2 separate regions of the Homo sapiens genome follow, and region 2 is linked to region 1. Evidence: fine-mapped expression QTL. A gene starts in region 1. The other region holds a variant in brackets. All regions are shown on one strand. Distances are from middle to middle.

Region 1 (10,104 bases):
GAGAAGCTAGCGCAGGTTTCTCTCAATGCAGATGTAGCTGGGCTGCAGTCCAAGGCTTAGAAAATCCTCTGGATATACCAATGAGAATGGAGGCTTAGGTTGGAGAGAACAGGAAGGTCTAGGGAATTGGGATCTGGAGCAAAGGCTCACCATAGACATGCAAAGTGGTCAGCTTATGGAGCACACGCTGTAGCTCTTGGAAGGTGGGTCTGCGGGTGGCGAGGGGGATATCCCAAAGTCGGGGATCCCCCCTTTGCAGGGGTGCTCCCTTGCCTCCAAAGAACAAAGACCGGCCAGAGCGGGGAGCACGCAACAGTATTGTACCAGCCTCCTCCAGCGCCTTAGCCCAGCTTGGCCCTGCCAGCAGGTCACGAACATCCTAGAGAAGAGAGTAACTCAGTCCTGCATACCTTCACTTGCTATTTATAAATCTCCAACTAAAAAAAATGGCCCACAGAAGTGCAAGGGGTGGAAAGTAGAGGATAACACGGAGAAAGAATAGAGGACTAAGGCTCCTGGGGAATCCCTCATCTACCTTTGTCTACCTATAATGAAAATTGGAAGGATATGAGTCAAAAACCTCCCTACTTAACAGTGAGTTGAACAGAGATGCAAAAAAAGTATGGATCAGTACCACCAGATCTAAAAGGCTTAACTCACCTTATATAGTGTGGCTTCATTGTAGCGCCTCAGGTTGGCTCCAGCAGAGTGTGATGGCCCACCTCGGGCATCCCGAAGCCCCTGGGCTGTGCCCCGCTTGGCCCGAACCGTATAGCGGTGAAAAGTTTTGTGTGTCACCACTTCTCTTCTGTAGACAGCACAGACTCAGTACTGGAGACCAGCTGGTGCTCCCTGGCTAACAGGATCCACTCCATCCTTACCCCCATGCAGCACCCTCTCACCCTTGAAATATAGCACCAGCAAAGTGCCCAGCTGCAGCCATGAGCACCACGCAGTCTCTGGGACCTCTACTTTGCAGGTTCTGTAGCAGCAGTTCTGCCTCTTCTGGGGGATCCTTGATGACAGAGAAGCATCAGAAACATATCTGTTGCATTCACTGAGAGCAAGAAACTAAGGGCCAATTTTCACAAACATTATCTCATTTAATATTACCACCCTGAGGCTTGTTTCCATTTGACAAACAAGGAAATTTGAGGCTTGGCGAGGCAGTCAAGATGAAGTGGTAGAATCACAATTCAAACCTAAATTGGTTTGTTTCCAAACTTAATTCCATTACACTTAACCCTTCCACAATTCAGGCCAGTTTCAATTCAAGACTATGTTGTCAAGCGTGATACCCACAACCAACAGGAAGGAAGAGAAGCAGGGAGAAATGCACTAGGCTAAGGGAAATCTAGGCTGGGTGTACAAAAGGCTGGGGTTAGCCATGCAACCTGTACTGTCACTTGCCTGATGAGGGCCTAGGACACAGCGGTAGGCATAAAGAAACTGGCCCTGGGCATTCTGGAAAAGAACTCGATGAGGGTAAAAGCCTGGGGGTCGGCTCAACTTCTCAAATGTAGCCCTCTCCCGATCCAGTGTCTGCAAGTCCTCCTCACTGGCTGAGTCTGAGTCTTCTGATCCCGAGATGCTGGAAAGATCTCCTGAAGACAGACAATATGAGATACACAAGTTTGGTACCCCATTTTTGTTCTTTCCTCAAACTCTAAACTAGTGCTTTCTTATACCTCCATGTCCTACTCCTACATAGGTCCCCCTACCACTCATCACCTGTGGAGCTCTGCTTTTCAAAGTCCAGGGCAGACAGGAGAGGCTTGTCCTTGAGACGTTGCTTTAGGTTAAACCGATGCCAGTCAAGCTTATAATGTTCCCTCTAGTACAAAGACAAAGAGTGAGATAAAGGTGGAAATATGCCCCAGCCTGGCCTTGTACTGGCCAAGACCAGTTATAGTATTCTAGGAAGTACAACCAGGTAACACCAACTGCCTCAGTCAAAGCATGGACCTTTATTAAGACAAATCAAATGTCTACCTCTCCCCACCCACCATTACACTTTTGCTTCTAACATCTAGCTCTGCACCTGACCTATTACCTGTTCTTGGTGGTTCTGGAAGGTCTGGTCACAAGTTGAACAAAATAACTTCTCTGAAATATCCATAGGACCCTGGAGTAGCTTTCTTTCTGGGCTTTCTCTCTCCCCTGAGCCTAAATAAGGGAAGAGGAATTGGACATAGAAAGGGAGCCCAAATCCACAGTGACAAGAATTATATTCAGAGTGTGATATACAAAGCAGAGGAGGATACAAAAGAGATGGCATGATACTGCCTTCAAGGAATTTACACTCTAATAGTCATGAAATAAACAGTACAGCAATCACTTAATGCAATAAACATGCTTCTGAAAACATGTACGTAAAATGAATGTAAATAAAATAAAATTGGCCAGGTGCAGCGGCTCACGCTTGTAATCCCAGCACTTTGGGAGGCCAAGGCAGACGGATCATGAAGTCAGGAGATCAAGACCATCCTGGCTAACACGGTGAAACCCCGTCTCTACTAAAAATACAAAAAATTAACCGGGTGTGGTGGCGGATGCCTGTAGTCCCAGCTACTTGGGAGGCTGAGGCAGGAGAACGGCATGAACCGGGGAGGCGGAGCTTGCAGTGAGCCGAGATCACACCACTGCACTCCAGCCTGGGCAACAGAACGAGACTCTGTCTCAAAAAAGATGAAGAAAAATAAAATAAATAAAACGAATGTAAATAAAAACTGGCCCTGGGCATTCTGGAAAAGAATCCGATGAGGGTAAAAGCCTTGGGGTCGGTTAAACTTCTCCAACGTAGCCCTCTCCCGAGATCCAGCGTCTGCAAGTCCTCCCCACTGGCTGAGTTTGAGTCTTGTCTAATTTAAATTAGCCAAACAGATTGTTTAGGTGAATCCTAAAGAAAATAATTTCTGTTCAGTTTAAAATTATTTTTCACTGCACAAAAACTACTTCCCAAATGCTTTTTAAAGTTTACATTTCCAATTAGTGTACAGTTTGTCTAAGGAGAGGTGCAAGAAAAGATGTAGCCAAACTAAAGTTACACAAAACAGGACCGACACGGTGGCTCATGCCTGTAATCTCAGCACTTTGGGAGGCTGACCCAGGCGGATCACTTGAGGCCAGGAGTTTGAGACCAGCCTGGCCAACATGGTGAAACCCCGTCTCTACTAAAAATACAATAATTAGCCGGGCATGGTGGTGCGGGCCTGTAGTCCCAGCTACTCGGGAGGCTGAGGCAGGAGAATCACTTGAACCCGGGAGACGGAGATTGCAGTGGGTGGAGATCGTGCCACTGCACTTTAGCCTGGGCGACAGAGCGAGACTCTCAAAAAATAAAGCTATACGAAACAAATAATAAATTGTTTCATATTCAGCAAAAAGGAATAATTTGAGTGGGGCCTGGTTAAATGTGGAATACATCTGAGAATTTTATCTCTACAAAGTTTAAAGTGTTTTTGAAGGGAATGGTGTTAACGTGAGGAGATACATGCAATGGCAAAAAGACTTGTTTGAAAACAAGGGCTGTGCTGGACATTACCCAGAGATTAAGTGAATTTAATCAAGCAGAAAGATAAATCAATTGGCCTCCTAAGCTCGGGAATACCAATAAGAATGTGTTCCCTGAACGGGCAATACGCTGTAAGGAGCCCTGTCACGTTTCACACGAAACCTTCCAGGATACCTGAACAGGAAGTACGCGGAGCCCGGGCCAGAGCCTCCCCAGGCGCGTGGCTCACCAGGCTCAGGCCCTGAAAGACCGGAGCATCCGCGCTGAGGTCAAACAGGGAGATCGACGCAGGAGCCGGGGCTGCATCTGGAGCCGGCGACATGGCTGAGCAGAAATTATTTAGCAGCAGCTCCTGGAGTAGAAAGCGTGTAAGAAACAGGGCTCCTGCAAACGAGATCCTACTGCTGCGTCTCCTGCCTGCCTGACTTGGTTTCTCCTGCACCGCAAGACTTCTCGTCTCTCATCCTGCTACCAACTGTGAGATGAATACCTTGGCCCCCGTCCACTTTCTCAAACCCCCAGTCTCAGCCCACAAAAGAATGAAATAGGCATTCGGCTCCCAAATCGAGTCCAACAGAGTTAAAAATCACTGAGCTTGCCTAGCCGAACTTTCTTCGTTACCCATGCGACCAGCAACAACTGGCCCGCGTAAACTCGCCCACGCCCTTAGAAGACGCACCAAACGTCCCGGGAGCTGAGCGGCTCGCAAGTCCTCAGGTCGATTGCCGGATTTCTGCAACACAACAATCCCCGTCACTACGGAGCAGCGAAGAGGACAACCGGCGGCGTCCGCACCTGAGCCCCGCCCCACGTAGAGCACACTATTGGGCCGCTGACTGTCCAAGACCCGCCTCGAGACTTTAGTCCCGTCCCTGAAGCCGAGAATTGGCCGTTGTGTCTCCGCCCCCCGTGCTTATTGGCCAGCCTGGCTGCGGGTGACAGTGAGTGGCAGACACCCGGCCTAGCGCCGCGGGTCGCGCCGAGCCGAGCCGAGCCGAGCGGAGCCGGCGGAGCCTCTGGAATCACCCGGGTCGCTGTTCCTGAGGTAAGACGTGAGACCGGTTATTGGAATCCCAGGCCCCGTGTCTGGCCTTGCCCAGGGGTGCCTGCGGAGCCCTAAGTGAGCTCGCGGCGGGTAACGGAGGAAGGGGCGCCGCCGGCGGGGCGGGGGCGCGCAGCCGGAATGTTTTGATTGCTGGCGCGCGCAGACGGGGGCGCGCGCGGGCGCCGGGGCCGCGCGCGAGGTTGTCCGCTGTTGGGAGCTGCCAGCCCTTGGCCTGGGGCCGGGCGACCCTGGGGCGAGGTGGACTCCGGTCCACGGTCGCCGCGGCTGGGTGTGGGGAGGCAAGCCAACCCACCCGGGCTATCAGCTGTAAGGCTGACTCGATCCCTGCAACATCCGCAGGAACCCCTGAGCCCAGGCCCAGCCGGCCGGGGCTCCACGGGCCCTGGTCCACACTGACCCTGTGAGTGGTGACTTCCCTGAGGGGCAGGGCTCTCACTAGCCCAGGGAATCCCACCGGGGCCAGGCTGGGCCAAGATCCACGGCCCCCAGGGGCTGCACGGACAGGTGAGTACCACCTCGACCATGCCTGGCTTACAGGACCTAGGGAACCCACAAATTCACCTAGGATCGGGGGTCTACACTGACCCAGTCAAGGTTTCCCATCCAGAAGGTTTGCTCACCGGCTGGATCTTTGGTGCTAGGGAAGTAAGAGAAGGGGTTGACCAGAAAGGTCCTCTTCAGGAAAGACTCTTGAGGTTTTGTGGACCCTGAGAAGTATGTCATTTCTGAGGCTAAGGTAGGGCAATGGAGAAATAGTCCAGAGGCGCCCCTGGCCTCAGGTCTGTACCCACTCATTCTCCATGGGGTCCCTAAGTTACTTCTTGAGACCCTGGAGTTGGAAGAGTGGCCCGGTTTAGCACAGCCAGAGGAAGTGCTCGTAGTCCTGGGCTGGAAGGGTGCTTCTTCCCCACTGCAGCCTTCCTGCCCCATGCTTGGCCTCCTCTTGGTGGGGTGTGGATGGCTGGGAGGGTTGGGTTCCTTTTTATCCCCACTGCCCACTCTCTGGGGCCTGACATCTTCTCCTCCAGCAGCTGCAGAGCATCGAGGGCTGGAGAGGAGCACATACTGTCCATGGAGCTGGTAGGGCCATGTGCTTTTCTCAAACATTTGTTTGTGAAGTGCTTCCAAACTGTTAGTCTCTTGGGAGACCAGGGTTCCCAGGATGGGCGGGGGAGGGACTCTTCTGTCCGTTAAATAGAAGATGAAACAGCCCCCAACAAAGGGACAGATTCTGGCTTTGGGCCAGGAAAGCAGCAGTAGACACCCAGACTGGCCAGAGTTAAGGCTCCCCCAGCCCTGAGCTTACTGCCTTTCTTGTGTCACTACTCCTCTGCCTCTGAGCCAAGGAGGCTGGTAGTGGACAAAGCCCAAGGGTACTTTCTCCTTTTGGCAGTAGGCAGGGCAGCCCATGGGCAGCAGCTGGAACTGAATCAGGGTCTCTTCTTCCTCCTTATTGGCAGGTGGTCAAGGTGGACAGGGGGCGGTGGTGATGGCGCAGTTTGACACTGAATACCAGCGCCTAGAGGCCTCCTATAGTGATTCACCCCCAGGGGAGGAGGACCTGTTGGTGCACGTCGCCGAGGGGAGCAAGTGTGAGTTCTTGGATATGACAGCCATAGGGAGAGTTGATGGAAGAACATGGAGAGAGCAAGGGGCTTGTGTTCTCCCAGGGCTCTGACATCTCTGTTCCTATCCCACAGCACCTTGGCACCATATTGAAAACCTTGACCTCTTCTTCTCTCGAATATCCTTTGTGTTTCTGAGTTGGAGCTCTGGGACCTTTAATGTCTCTCTAAGCCGGGGCTCTGGTGGGAGGTGGGGGTAGGTTTGACTCTAATACCTGGAAACGGGAATGGAGCTCATCCTGAGGCTGAAAGAGGCTGGTGAAATCATCGTTAAGTAATGATAGCCCACATTTACCAAGATCTGTGTGCCTGTGTCCACTTTGTGGTGTTAATTTGTAGAAGCCTTTCTAAGGGTGAGCCTCCTTTTTTTTTTGTTTGAGATGGAGTCTGTCTCTGTTGCTGCTAGAGTCCAGGGGCGATCTCAACACACTGCAACCTCCACCTCCTGGGTTCAAGAGATTCTCCTGCCTCAGTCTCCCACGTAGCTGGGATTACAGGCACCTGCCACGATGCCCAGCTATTTTTTGTATTTTTCATAGAGACAGGGTTTCACCATGTGGCAAGGCTGGTCTCGAACTCCTGACCTCAAGTGATCCACCTGCCTTGCCCTCCCAAAGTGTTAGGATTACAGGCGTGAGCCACCACACCCAGCCGAGCCTCCTTTTTGATGGGATGTAAATAATCGTAATAAGTAACGTCTTTTGACTCATTCTGTGTCAGCTCTGTGTTAAATGCTTTACATGCATTATCTTAGACCTAATACTCCTATGAGACAAGTGTTATTTATTCCTAATGTACCACCATGGACAGACAAAAGTTTAGACAGGTTAAGTAACTTGGTAAAGTCACACAGCTAGAAAGTCACAGAGCCAGGACTTAAGCTTGAGTGTGTTGACACCAAAGTCTGTGCTCTTACCTGCTTTCTTTACTGACTACTTTTTCTTAACAATTACACGTTTATAATCTGCACCAGAAGAATGGCTTCACATGTATGCTCATCGGGGAGATCTTTGAGCTCATGTAAGTATAAGAAGGGACAGATGATGTGGTGAAAGAATACATCTTAGTCTTTCCTCTCCTTGCACTCACACTTGGCCCAACCTGCCAGTACAACTCAGTCCTAGGCTAAAACTCCGTAAACCTTTGTAGTTCAGGGACTGGGTGTGGCACCAAAACTTACAGCTTCACCTTTCTTTTTTTTTGAGATGGAGTGAGTCTCACTCTGTCGCCCAGGCAGGAGTGCAGTGGTCTTGGCTCGGTGCAACCTCTGCCTCCCAGGTTCAAGTGATTCTCCTGCCTCAGCCTCCTTAGTAGCTGGGACTACAGGCATGTGCCACCATGCCCGGCTAATTTTTTTTGTATTTTTAGTAGAGATGGGATTTCACCAAGTTGGCCAGGCTGGTCTCGAACTCCTGACCTCGGGTTATCTGCCCGCCTCAACCTCCCGAAGTGCCGGGATTATAGGCATGAGCCACCACGCCCGGCCAAGCTTTCTTACAAGAAAAGCTTTCCAAGCCTTATCTCTTCCATGAAAAGAACCCAAGCCTTGGTTGGGCACGGCAGCTCACACCTGTAATCCCAGCACTTTAGGAGGCTCTAAAAATACAAAAATTAGCTGGGTGTGGTGGCACACGCCTGTAATCCCAGCTACTTGGGAGGCTGAGGCACAAGAATCGCTTCAACCTGGGAGGTGGAGGTTGCAGTGAGCCGAGATTGTGCCGCTGCACTCCAGCCTGGCTGACAGAGTGAGACTCTCTCAAAAAAAAAAAGAATGCAGGCCTTGACCTTGATCATCTCAACGCTCCAATGGAACGTACATTGTTCAGTCAGGAGGTCTCAGAGATGCCAGCCACAGAGAAAAGCCTCTGTTCTGCCTTGCCTGTTCCATGGCCTGCTCCTAGGCAGAGAGCCTCCTGGGAGAGAGAAGCCATATAGCATTGCCGAAGGGGAAGGGGTTAGGAAGCCCTCCCTCAATCAGAAAACTCCCCCAAGGGCTTTTAACTACAACCTCAAAAGGAAATCAGAGACTGGAGATCAGAGACCCACAGGATGAAACCTTCGAGAGTCCAGTAGTGGTGGCTGAGGTTACCATGAGGTGAGGAAAGTAGGCTGCAGCTGTGGCAGCTGAGGCTAAGAGCAAAGAGTGGGCCTGAGACAGTCCTGTGGGGCTGAGGAGCAGAGAGGGCCCACTGGGAGTTCTCCAGGCCCTTCCAGTTCCCAGTCTTGTTCTGCCACCTCCAGACTCTCCTCTTCCCACTGGGTTTCACTGGAGCCTCTCTGGCTCTCAGACTGCACCCCTTCTTCCCAACTCCCCAGGCAGTTCCTCTTTGTGGTTGCCTTCACTACCTTCCTGGTCAGCTGCGTGGACTATGACATCCTATTTGCCAACAAGATGGTGAACCACAGTCTTCACCCTACTGAACCCGTCAAGGTCACTCTGCCAGACGCCTTTTTGCCTGCTCAAGTCTGTAGTGCCAGGTAAGGGCTGCAAGTCAAGAGGACACCATAGCCTTGAGTTCTGCTAGCAGGTGGGTAATAGAGTGGAGTCTGAGGCAGCAACTCATACTCCAGAACTGACTCAGGCTTGGTCTAGCAAAAATACTTCAGGATAGCAGCGTCTCTGCCAAGACTCCTTCCTCGAGGGCCACCTCTCCTCCCCTTCTTTTTCCCCACCAGGATTCAGGAAAATGGCTCCCTTATCACCATCCTGGTCATTGCTGGTGTCTTCTGGATCCACCGGCTTATCAAGTTCATCTATAACATTTGCTGCTACTGGGAGATCCACTCCTTCTACCTGCACGCTCTGCGCATCCCTATGGTAAGACTGGGAAGTTGGGCAGTTAGCCCATAGTCTAAGACGTATTGGGAGGTGTGGGTGTATTCCTGGGCATCAGTTATCCTTATCTGTCATTGACAAATCAGGAACTGTCTCTTAAGCTCACAACCCCTGAATCTCACTTCTAATATAGGGCAAAGGGGTCGAGGCAACAACCCCACCTTCCGTACCTTGTCTCTTCCCCACCCCACCCCGCAGTCTGCCCTTCCGTATTGCACGTGGCAAGAAGTGCAGGCCCGGATCGTGCAGACGCAGAAGGAGCACCAGATCTGCATCCACAAACGTGAGCTGACAGAACTGGACATCTACCACCGCATCCTCCGTTTCCAGAACTACATGGTGGCACTGGTTAACAAATCCCTCCTGCCTCTGCGCTTCCGCCTGCCTGGCCTCGGGGAAGCTGTCTTCTTCACCCGTGGTCTCAAGTACAACTTTGAGCTGATCCTCTTCTGGGGACCTGGCTCTCTGTTTCTCAATGAATGGAGCCTCAAGGCCGAGTACAAACGTGGGGGGCAACGGCTAGAGCTGGCCCAGCGCCTCAGCAACCGCATCCTGTGGATTGGCATCGCTAACTTCCTGCTGTGCCCCCTCATCCTCATATGGCAAATCCTCTATGCCTTCTTCAGCTATGCTGAGGTGCTGAAGCGGGAGCCGGGGGCCCTGGGAGCACGCTGCTGGTCACTCTATGGCCGCTGCTACCTCCGCCACTTCAACGAGCTGGAGCACGAGCTGCAGTCCCGCCTCAACCGTGGCTACAAGCCCGCCTCCAAGTACATGAATTGCTTCTTGTCACCTCTTTTGACACTGCTGGCCAAGAATGGAGCCTTCTTCGCTGGCTCCATCCTGGCTGTGCTTATTGCCCTCACCATTTATGACGAAGATGTGTTGGCTGTGGAACATGTGCTGACCACCGTCACACTCCTGGGGGTCACCGTGACCGTGTGCAGGTGGGCCAGGGCCACAGGCGGGAGCAAGCCGGCTAGCATTCCTGGGAAAGGCATACATCTCACCATGATCCTGATCCCACTAGGTCCTTTATCCCGGACCAGCACATGGTGTTCTG
Region 2 (10,104 bases), 97 kb before region 1:
CTGAGGGTAGGCTTTCTGTTCCCCAAATGTCTCTACTTAAAACTTTGTCACATTTACCCCCATGGGGATGAGACAGGAGTAGGAGTGGGATCTGGATGGGTGGACTATTTGCACTAGAACACCTTGGAAGAGCCCAGTAAAGGCTTCTAGGGAAAAAAAAAAACAAAACTGAAAACGGCCAGCATCCAACTCCTTGAGACTAGTCTCCCCCCAACCCCAGCACTATATGAGCTTTTCCAAAGCCAGGACTCTTCAAGTTCTCAGACAGGAAAACACACACTTCAGCCTCTGAGTAGGAAATTGTATGACAAACAGATGGGAGGAATGAAAGGGAGTGGAGAGTCCATTGGCAACATGTGGCTGACCCTGTCTCACAGCAGAGTTTCATGAATGTTGGGGAGGAGACAGTCAGCTAGGAAATCTTCCTTGAGTTCATATTACTGCTGCTAACACTAATATGTGCATAGTGCCTTAGAGCAGTAGTTCTCAAAGTGCACCCCTGGACTGGCAGCATCAACCTCGCCAGGGAACTTGTTAGAAATGGGAATTTTTGAACTTCACCACAGACCTACTGCATCAGAAGCCCTAGGGGTGGGAAACAGCAGTCTGTATTTTAACAGACCTTGCAGGAGATTCTGATGCACATGCTAAAGTTTGATAATCACTGCCTTAGCATTTTCTAAGCACTCTTTATATTCCTAACCTCATTTAATCCTCACAATAGCATCAAATGAACCAGCAAAGAGACTGTAATCATAATCCTAATTTGAATATTATATGCTAGGCACTATGCTAAGCAACTTTAATACATCATCTTGTTTAATTCTCTGTAAAATGTAATCTAATATATACTTGAGAGAAAGGTTACTCTGATCCCTGGAGTGGATCCGAGTGTCTCAGGTGTCAACTCACCCCCCATCCTTTCATCCTGCAGGTCTGTTCTGGAAGGATGACATCACCCAGGATGCAATGATCCAAAAGATGGAGCATGCCAGCAGACTGCATCCCCAAGAACCATGCCTGAAGGATGGGAAGGCACTTTTCCCCACTAAAACCACTGAGGTGAGGTGCATGAGGCCTGTGGTCATTCCAAGCATTCTGGCAGACAGACGGAACAGGGAAGGAATGTGTGCTAAAACTGCAGGTAGAAGTTGCCAGGAGCACTGTGAGAATTCAGAGGTCCTGTTTGGAATCAGCAGAGAAGAATTTCATGATCCATTAGTGATATCTGCAAAGGGAGGGGAGGTGGGTGTGGCAAGCCTAGGTCCAATTTGTCATTCCCTGTCTCTTCTAGCAAGAGGAGAAACTTCAACTCCTATTCCCCAGTGAGACTCACGTATCTTCTCAAGAATTGTGAATCCCTGACTTTGTATCCAATTGCTTTTCCTGTGGGGCCCTCTCACCCTTTTCTGCCTCCTCCTTGACTCCTGGTTTCCCTCCTCACAGAGCCCCCTGGCCAAGGTGAACAGGGATCAGTGCTTTACCTCCGAAGTGGTTTCTAAGGCCCTGAAACAAGAGGTGGCCAACCCTGTCAAGGTGAGGGGCTCACTTTTTCTAGGGAGGTTGGACCTGTTTAAATGAGGGAGGCAGATAGGAAGAAGGGAATGGGCATTGAGGTGAGGGCAGATCGCTGCAGAAAAGATTTTTCCATTCCTAATCAAAGGTACTTCTAATTTCCTGTATCTCTCAGATTACCTATAGGTGTTCATATGGGGGGCTGGACATGATGCAGGCGCCGGGACCCTCTAAGGAAGAAATTATCTATAAGATCATGCGTAAGTATTGAGTTTAAAATAGGCATTGAAACAGCAGAGTTTTCAAAATTAAACGTCCTTTTTGCCATATATGCCCTTGTATATAGCACATGATAGCAACACTCCCTTGATGAATGGGAGGTGCAGCTCAGAGACCCTCACATTCAGCCTCCCCCTTGCTCTACTCTATGGCCTGGGCAAGTCACCCAGGCAAGGCTCTGAGACATCTCCTTGGGATCTTTGAACTCTTCAGAATCCAGAATGGAAACCGCCCATCTAGTACTCCCATCCATCTTTATAGATGAGAAATTGGGGCCCAGGCCATGGGACATACTCAAGGCAACACCATGGGTTTGTGGCAGAGCCAAGACTGGACCCAGGTCTCCTGATTTCCAGCTCTTTCCCCCTGCATAGTCCCTGCCCTTCCACTCAAGAACTGCAGTGGGATTTGGCCATTCCAAACATCAGACTCCTCCACACTGAAAAAAGAGGTTTTTTTTTTTTTGGACTAAGACCTAAATTATAAGGTGGCAACCAGAGGAAGATGTAAAGGAAGGGCATCTGAGGCAGACAGCATTGCCACTACGAATGTCCTGAGACACCCATACCATGTCATGTTAAGGAACAGACAGAAAAGTCAGTGGTCAAAGATGAGGGTGGAGAATTAGGCCCAGGACTGACCACACAGGGGCTCACAGATCATAGCAAAAGGTTTGAATTTCATTCTAAGTGCAGTGGGAATTTAACTGGGAAATTTTAAGGAAAGGAATGTCACAACGTGATATGATTTTAAAAGGCCACCCTGGTGATGTTGGGGAATGAACTGTAAGGAGAGCAAAAGTGAAAACTGAGAGGTCTGTAAGGAGGGGCTCATCCTGGTCCAGGGAGACCGAGGTGGCTTGAATTTGGGTGGTGGCAGTGAAGCAGGGCACCCCCGGCTGGCTGCACCCTCCATCTAAAGGCAACCTGCACCACAGGGGGTTCCAGCTCCTCATGCTCTCCAAGGAAACAGATTCCTACTTCCATAATGTGGCAGCTGGGCTTCCTAAGCCTGGATTGGTTGCTGGGGCAACATAATCAGAGCTCAGTGACAGAAGTGACAGAGACCTACCTGTGGGGGACTGGTTGCCCTGGTGCTCCCAGGAATAATGCAAACAAGAAGCTGCCATTCTTCTCCAGACCTAAGCTTAAGGGCAAACCATGGAGAGACAGGGCTACATGTGAGACCCAAGGGGACAGGCTCTCAGTTGGTGAGCTGTCACCATGCTGAAGGGTTACTCAAATCAGGCTGTTACTACAGTATTTGTGGAAGGAGGGCAGATGAGGGAGGAGCCACTGTCTCACATCCTGACTCTAGCTCCCTTGTTTCTTCTTGTTTTAGGGCTTCTCTGGGCCACTTCCTACTGTGGGCCGCAACCCTGTGGCTGATTGAGACCTCATGTGAAGCCTCCCTGCCCCAGCACCCTTCCCATTGCCCTTCAGAGGAGCAGTTCTTGGATGACCCAGATTTGAATCATTAAAGTAGACTCTCATGCAAACACTGAGTTTGTCTTGAGGCAAGATGGGTGGGGGTTGAACTTGGCCAGAGCCTCCAAACAGAGGGAGGTGGGACCAAAACATGGGGTGGGGATGAGGGGAGCACAACTCTTGGCTGATGGAAGACTGGCTTCTGTCTTGTTTTCCTTCCACTGATAATTCCCGGAGTGGGGAAAGTGAGAGTGAGACCACAGCTGGAATGGCAGCCCCCCTAACCCAGCCACATCCCAGCCACACTGTGTGGTCTAGTTGCCCATCCTTTCACGTTACGGGGAGGTGGACTCCATATTCATTTCTTTTACCCCTCATGCCAGACAGGCCTGGACCCTGCTGTTTTTTGAGGGTCCCCACCTCCAGCATTATAGCCCCTACCAGGCTTTCCCACCCATCCTGTCTACAAGGACCAACAGATCAGTGCTGAGGTCAGAGTGTACGCACACTGGACATTCTGATCATTCTTGCTAGTTTGCTCCTGGTAGCTTAAAATCTTAAAAGGGAGTTGGTAATCTCACCACCTATGTTCAGCCAACAACCAAACACTAGAATGTCCTATTTGCAGAGCTTTATACATTTTGAAGCACTTTCACACACGTTGGAGGCTCACAGGTGTAAGCAAATGGGCAGGTATCAAGACTGGGTTTCTTGGCTGTGCACAGTGGCTTACACCTGTAATCCCAGCACTTTGGGAGGCCAAGGCGGGTGGATCATTTGAGATCAGGAGTTCAAGACCAGCCTGGCCAACATGGTAAGACCCTATCTCTACTAAAAATACAAAAATTAGGCTGGGCACGGTGGCTCATGCCTATAATCCCACACTTTGGGAGGCAGGGCAAGGGGATCACCTGAGTTCAGGAGTTCGAGACCAGCCTGGCCAACATGGTGAAATCCCATCTCTACTAAAAATACAAAAATTAGCTGGGCGTAGTGGTGCACACCTGCTATCCCAGCTACTCAGGAGGCTGAGGCAGGAGAATCACTTGCACCCAGGAGGTGGAGGTTGCAGTGAGCTGAGATCACGCCCTTGCACTCCAGCCTGGGCAACAGAGCAAGATTCCATCATAAACAAACAAACAAACAAAAATTAGCCGGGCATGGTGGCGCGCTACTCAGGAGGCTGAGGTAGGAGAATCGCTTGAACCTGGGAGGCAGAGTTGCAGTGAGCCAAGATCACACTATTGCACTGCAGCCTGGTCAACAGTGAGACTCCATCTCAAAAAAATAAACCAAAAACAACAACAAACTGGGTTTCTCTAAGGAATTGGAACTTGGCCACACCACATCTTCCCCATTTAAACAACCCAGAGAAACTACACGACTAGTTCTTAATGATCCAGATTCTCAGTCATGCTACTGTGGTTGCCCTTTCCCTTCTTGTTATGTTCAAGAACGTAGCTAAAGCCAA[C/T]GTTAGATCAGTCATACTCATTCGTACCTAGTTCTCATCAAATCAATTAACCCCTGCCACTCATCCTTCTTTTCTTCTTAAGCCTTCCTTTCTCACTCATTTTCAAACATGTATGTAATCATGTGCTTCACTGTGCCTGGCCTTTATGCTGAGTCACATATTTGGTTCCTGCCCTCAAAGACCTTTAAGAGTAGTCAGGGTGGGGTGCGGTGGCTTATTCCCATAATCCCAGCACTTTGGGAGGCTGAGGCAGGCAGATCACTTGAGCCCACCTAGTTTGAGACCAGCCTGGGCAACACGGCAAAAACCCATCTCCACAAAAATACAAAAATTAGCTGGGCATGGTGGCATGCACCTGTAGTTCCAGCTACCTGGGAGGCTGAGGTGGGAGAATCACTTGAGCCCAGGAGGTTGAGGCTGCAGTGAGCCATCATTGTGCCACTACACTCCAGTCTGGGTGACAGAGTGAGGCTGTTTAAAAAAAAAAAGTCAAGAAAGCAAGCCACATATAACATAGCGTCATTCAGTTATCTATAAGGAGTGAATGCAGTGGATGCCCCATCCCGTATCTCCTGGCCTGCATCTCCATTTGCCTGCAGCTGCAGGTGGACAGTTCTTGAACCTGTCAACCTTCCCACCTCATGCCCCGGGATTCTGCTTCTCATCCTGCAGGCTTTCTGGAATGCCAAGGGACTGCCCAGCTGTGCCCCAGGCAGCCCTGAAGCACCTGGGAGGTAATGCCCCTAGAGGCAACTCTCAATCAGTTAAGGGCCAAATTTAGTGCAAAAATATCCCAGATTCCACCAGCCCTTAGTGAGAAATGTTCAGTATGATTCTTCAGAGGGTGCCTAGTGAGATTCAGCCTAGTCGCCCACAGTGGTAACCTGTTCAGCAACACACTTATTATTGGCTTTTCTTCCTTCTTTGGCTTACTTTCCCTGTCCTTCATCTGTGATTTCTGGAATCATCTCCCACAGGAACCACCTGCACCCAAATTATTCATTCATTCATTTTTGAGACCCAGATCTCGCTCTGTCACCCAGGCTGGAGTACAGTAGTGCAACCATAGCTCACAGCAGCCTCAGTCTCTTGGGATTCTTCCACCTCACTTGAGCCCGAGAGACTGAGGCTGCTGTGAAAAATTGGAAGAATCCAATTCCTCCACCTCACTTGAACCTGAGTAGCTGGTACTACAGATGATCACCACCACACCTGGCTAATTTTTTTTTGTTTTTTAGTAGAGACAAGGTCTCACTATGTTCCCCAGGCTGGTCCCAAACTCTTGAGCTCAAGCAATCCTCCTGCCTTGGCCTCCCAAAGTGCTGGGATTACCAGCATGAGTCACCATGCCCAGCCCAAGTTCTTGTCTCAGTCTGCTCTTGGGTCCACCCAGACCAAGCCTACTATGTGCCAGACACTCTTCTAGGCCCTGGGGATACAGTTGTGAACAAGTCAGAGTATCCACTGCATGGATTTGGTCATAAATCATTGACTAACTGCCTGGGTATAGGGCAGAATCTAAGCAATTTATCTGGCCCACAGAGCATTCAAGTTCTTGTCTCACCAACCTCTTCAAAACTGCAGTGTTTCCCCCATCCTGCTGTCCTATGTGCACCAGCAATTCAGCCCTATTTGCATTTCCCCAAACATACCCAGCTGTTTTATGCTCCTGGGCCCTTGTATCAGCAGTTCCCTCTGCATATAAGTGTCCCATCCCCAGCACACCTTGTCAGTCTTACCTGAAAAATCTAAATTCTCCTCTGTGGTCCATTCCCTGACCCTCGTAACATCACCCCCATGCCCAGAGCAAAGTTGCAGAGGCTGGAAAAATAAAACCTATAGGGGACATTAAATAATCTGATAATTCTGGGACATGGTGAATGGGTAGGAAAGATGGGGAGTTTTTAGAAAGGAAGGCAGGTTCAGTTCCTATTGCAGAGGACCAGGTTATCTGATTTGGGTAGTATCTGATAGGTAATGAGGAGACACTAAATGTTTTTGAGCAAGAGAACACAATGAAAGTTGTGCTTAAGCATAGCCTTACATTTCTGTTTAAGGATGGATTAGAGAGCAGGAGAAAGTGGAAACATTTTAGAAAGACTGTTGCAATGGTGGGGGTGTCCCATACACGACCTGAATGGACTGAAAGAGGACATGTATGAGAGATATTTTGAAGGATGAGTTAATAAGCCTTTGCAACTGTTACAGGTTGAATTCTGTCCCCCCACCAAAAAAAAAAAAAAAAAAAAAAAAAATCATATGTTGAAGTCCTAATCCCCAGTACTTCCAAATGTGATGTTATTTGGAAATAGGGTTGTTGCAGATGTGGTTGGTTAAGATGAGGTCATTAGGACGGACTCTAATACCAATCACGGTATCCTTATAAAAAGAGGAAATACACAGTGGCCAGTGCTTGTAGTCCCAGCTACTCAAAGGCTGAGGCTAGATAATCGCTTGAGCACAGGAGTTTGAGACCATCCTAGGCAGCAGAGGGAGACCCAATCTCAAAAAAAGCAGGGGCAGGATTTGAAGACAGCCATAGCTAGAGCAACGATGATGTGAAAAGATAAAGGGAGATGGAAGCCATCTACAAGGCAAGGAGAGAGTTCTGAAACAGATTCTCCCTCACAGCTCTCAGAGGGTATCAACCCTGCCAACAGCTTGGTTTCAGATTTCTAGCCTCCAGAGCTGTGAGACCATAAATTTCTGTTGTTTAAGCCACCCAGTCTATGGTACTTTGTTACAGCAGCCCTAGCAAACTACTACAGATGACTGGGCTTTGTTGAGAAAGGAGGCTTACCTGAATTTAGAGATTTTGTGACTGATGGAATAAAAGTGCCATTCACAGAATACGAATATCTGGAGAATTAGTTGGAGAAGGAAAATTGATTTACTCTTAAGAGTTAAAGCTGGGAGCTCATTTAAGGACATCACACAGTTGTGTCCTCCGGTCTCTTTCCTACTTCATTACCTTTTCTTTGGATGTCTCATCATTTTTGTCAACACATGCTGTAATATCTTTTATATTTATTTTTTCCTGAATTTCTGCTTCTGGTAATGATGCACTAGGTCATTACCTCAAGCCTTTTGGATGTCTGATCATTTTCATCAACACATGTTGTTATATCTCCCATATTTATTTTTTCCTCAATTTCTGCTTCTGGTAATAATGCACTAGGTCATTACCTCAAGCTCATACTCCTCAGGCCCTTGCTGAAGACAACTTGTCTTAGACTGATTCCTCCCAAAGTCAAACTGCAAAATAAGGGCTTGTATAGAGGTTGTTTAGTTTGGGAAGATATCACAAGATCAAGAGTGGAAGAATGAAAAGAGCGAAACAGGAGGGCTTGGAAAGCTAATTTAAGGGTGCAAGAATGAGTTGTAGGCCACTGGGAATCAGTTCTTCTGGGGACTCTTTAAGCATCAGGTACAAGATATACCCTACAATTGTCCTTCGGAAAGAGAAGTATTTATCTAGTTTCCATCCGCCATTGGATCAAGAGTTGACCTATGGGATGTTAATTTCCTCATACTTCCAGGTTTTTCATGGATGAGAATGACTGAACAGATTCCCAGGAGTGCCTAATGCTGTTGTAGCAGAGCAGACTCAAATCAAAAACAAGAGATATTTAGTGCAGGTGAGGCAGGTGGTGTCAAATGATTTAGTGCAGGTGGCTGCAGCAATGGCTGGAGTTAAAAGATAACTCAGGCCAGGAAAGGTGGCTTACACCTGTAATCCCAGCAATTTGGGAGCCCGAGGCAGGCAGATTGCTTGAGCTCAGGAGTTTGAGACCAGCCTGGGAAACATAGCAAAATCACATTTCAAAAAAATATGTAAAAATTAGCTAGGCGTGGTGGTGCGTGCCTGTAGTCCTAGCTACTTGGGAGGTTGAAGTAAGAATTACCTGAGCCCAGGAGTTCAAGGTTGCAGTGAGCTGAAATTACAGCACTGCATTCCAGCCTGGGCAACAGGGTGAAATCCTGCCTCAAAAAAAAATGTGGGTGAAAAATTACCAAAATATTTTTTAAACCATCAAGGAGCGAGCAAGAGTGAGGAGAAACTGACACAGAAGAAGATCCAAGAAAGGAACAGAATCCAGAGATAGAAGATCCAATGTTCAGGGTTGCAATGGAGAAATTTTCCATTCTTAGGAGGTAGATGACCAGCCCGGGCAATGCAGTGAGACCTCGTCTTAACAAAAAATAAAATTAGTGGGGCAGGGCAGCACACACTGGTAGTCTTAGCTACTTGAGAGGCTGAGGCAGGAACACTGATTGAGCCTGGTAGGTCAAGCCTGCAAGAAAGCCAAGGTTGCACCACTGCACTCCAGCCTGGGTGACAGAGCAAGACCCTCTCTCGGCAGTGGGGGGAAAAAGCCAAGAAAAGACTGATTTAGACAGCCTGTGGAGCTAGAGGAGTAGATGTTAGAATCCAGGGCTTGTGAAAGGAAGAATTCTAGTAAACTTCTCCGTGTTTTGGCCTGGGAACAAGAAACAAACTCCAAGCATAAAGATAAAAAAGTAAAATTAGCTGGGCATGGTGGTTCATGCCTGTAATCCCAGCTACTCTGGGAGGCTGAGGCAGAAGAATCACTTGAACCCAGGAGGTGGAGGTTGCAGTAAGCTGAGATCGTGCCATTGCACTCCAGCCTGGGCAACAAGAGTGAAACTCTGTCTCAAAAATAAATAAATAAATAAATAAATAAATAAATAAATAAATAAATAAGTAGTAACCCTTGCTCAGTCTGCAGTATGGCTGTGAAATTGGATTAAGGTTATATTAGATTGCTAGTGCTTTCAGGCACCTGCAGACATAAATGAAAATCCATCAAAACTTTAAATTATTTCTACAGATAATTTTCCAAATACTATGCTCTGCACAATAGATAACAAAAACAGACTCACAGTGATTTCAATGAAAAACATTGGTTCCAACATAAAACATCTGTGCTTGCTATGTTCAAACCTACAAAGACCAAACTATAATTTTTGACAGGAAACCAGAAACCACAAAGTTTTTTTTTTTTTTGAGATGGAGTCTAGCTCTGTTGCCCACGCTGGAGTGCAGTGTCCAGGCATGGTGGCGTATGCCTGTAATCCCAACACTCTGGAAGGCCAAGGCGGGTGGACCACCTGAGGTCAGGAGTTCGAGACCAGCCTGGCCAACACGGTGAAACCCCCATCTCTATTTAAAAAATAGAAAAATTAGGCTGGGCATGGTGGCTCACACCTATAATCCCAGCACTTTGGGAGGCCAAGGCATGCAGATCACCTGAGGTCAGGAGTTCAAGACCAGCCTGACCAACATGGAGAAACCCTGTCTCTACTAAAAATACAAAATTATCCAGGCGTGGTGGCGCAAGCCTGTAATCCCAGCTACTCGGGAAGCTGAGGCAGGAGAATCGCTTGAAC

Which allele goes with the higher level. Positions count from the first base shown, and alleles are read on the strand shown. Sizes are in standard deviations (SD) of each study's normalised expression.
As copies of T replace C in region 2, the expression in transverse colon of the gene that starts at base 4,458 in region 1 goes up (small effect, 0.30 SD a copy in GTEx).

What was found. PIP is the estimated chance that this variant, and not a neighbour inherited with it, causes the effect.
Region 2: its variant is fine-mapped to the expression of ATG9A in transverse colon (GTEx, PIP 0.97).

Annotation. Positions count from the first base shown.
Region 1 is chr2:219,223,990-219,234,093 of GRCh38, reverse strand. ATG9A (autophagy related 9A) reads left to right here and starts at 4,458. Exons shown (of 16, transcript NM_001077198.3): 1 at 4,458-4,559; 2 at 5,609-5,660; 3 at 6,041-6,172; 4 at 6,281-6,324; 5 at 7,161-7,225; 6 at 8,522-8,683; 7 at 8,882-9,023; 8 at 9,240-9,988; 9 at 10,072-10,104. The coding sequence starts at 6,070. It overlaps ANKZF1 (ankyrin repeat and zinc finger peptidyl tRNA hydrolase 1), which reads right to left and starts at 4,288. Exons shown (of 14, transcript NM_018089.3): 1 at 4,194-4,288; 2 at 3,689-3,866; 3 at 2,054-2,166; 4 at 1,732-1,834; 5 at 1,411-1,604; 6 at 903-1,015; 7 at 661-808; 8 at 151-379. The coding sequence starts at 3,836. RefSeq lists enhancers at 4,094-4,203, 3,874-4,421, 4,422-4,969, 4,970-5,518 and silencers at 4,354-4,483, 4,694-4,743.
Region 2 is chr2:219,320,595-219,330,698 of GRCh38, reverse strand. It overlaps RESP18 (regulated endocrine specific protein 18), which reads left to right. Exons shown (of 6, transcript NM_001441699.1): 3 at 935-1,062; 4 at 1,447-1,536; 5 at 1,691-1,775; 6 at 3,136-3,292. The coding sequence ends at 3,182. Among named protein-coding and RNA genes, the nearest start is that of RESP18, 7.1 kb to the left of the region's middle. The variant C/T (reference allele first, on the strand shown) is at 4,693.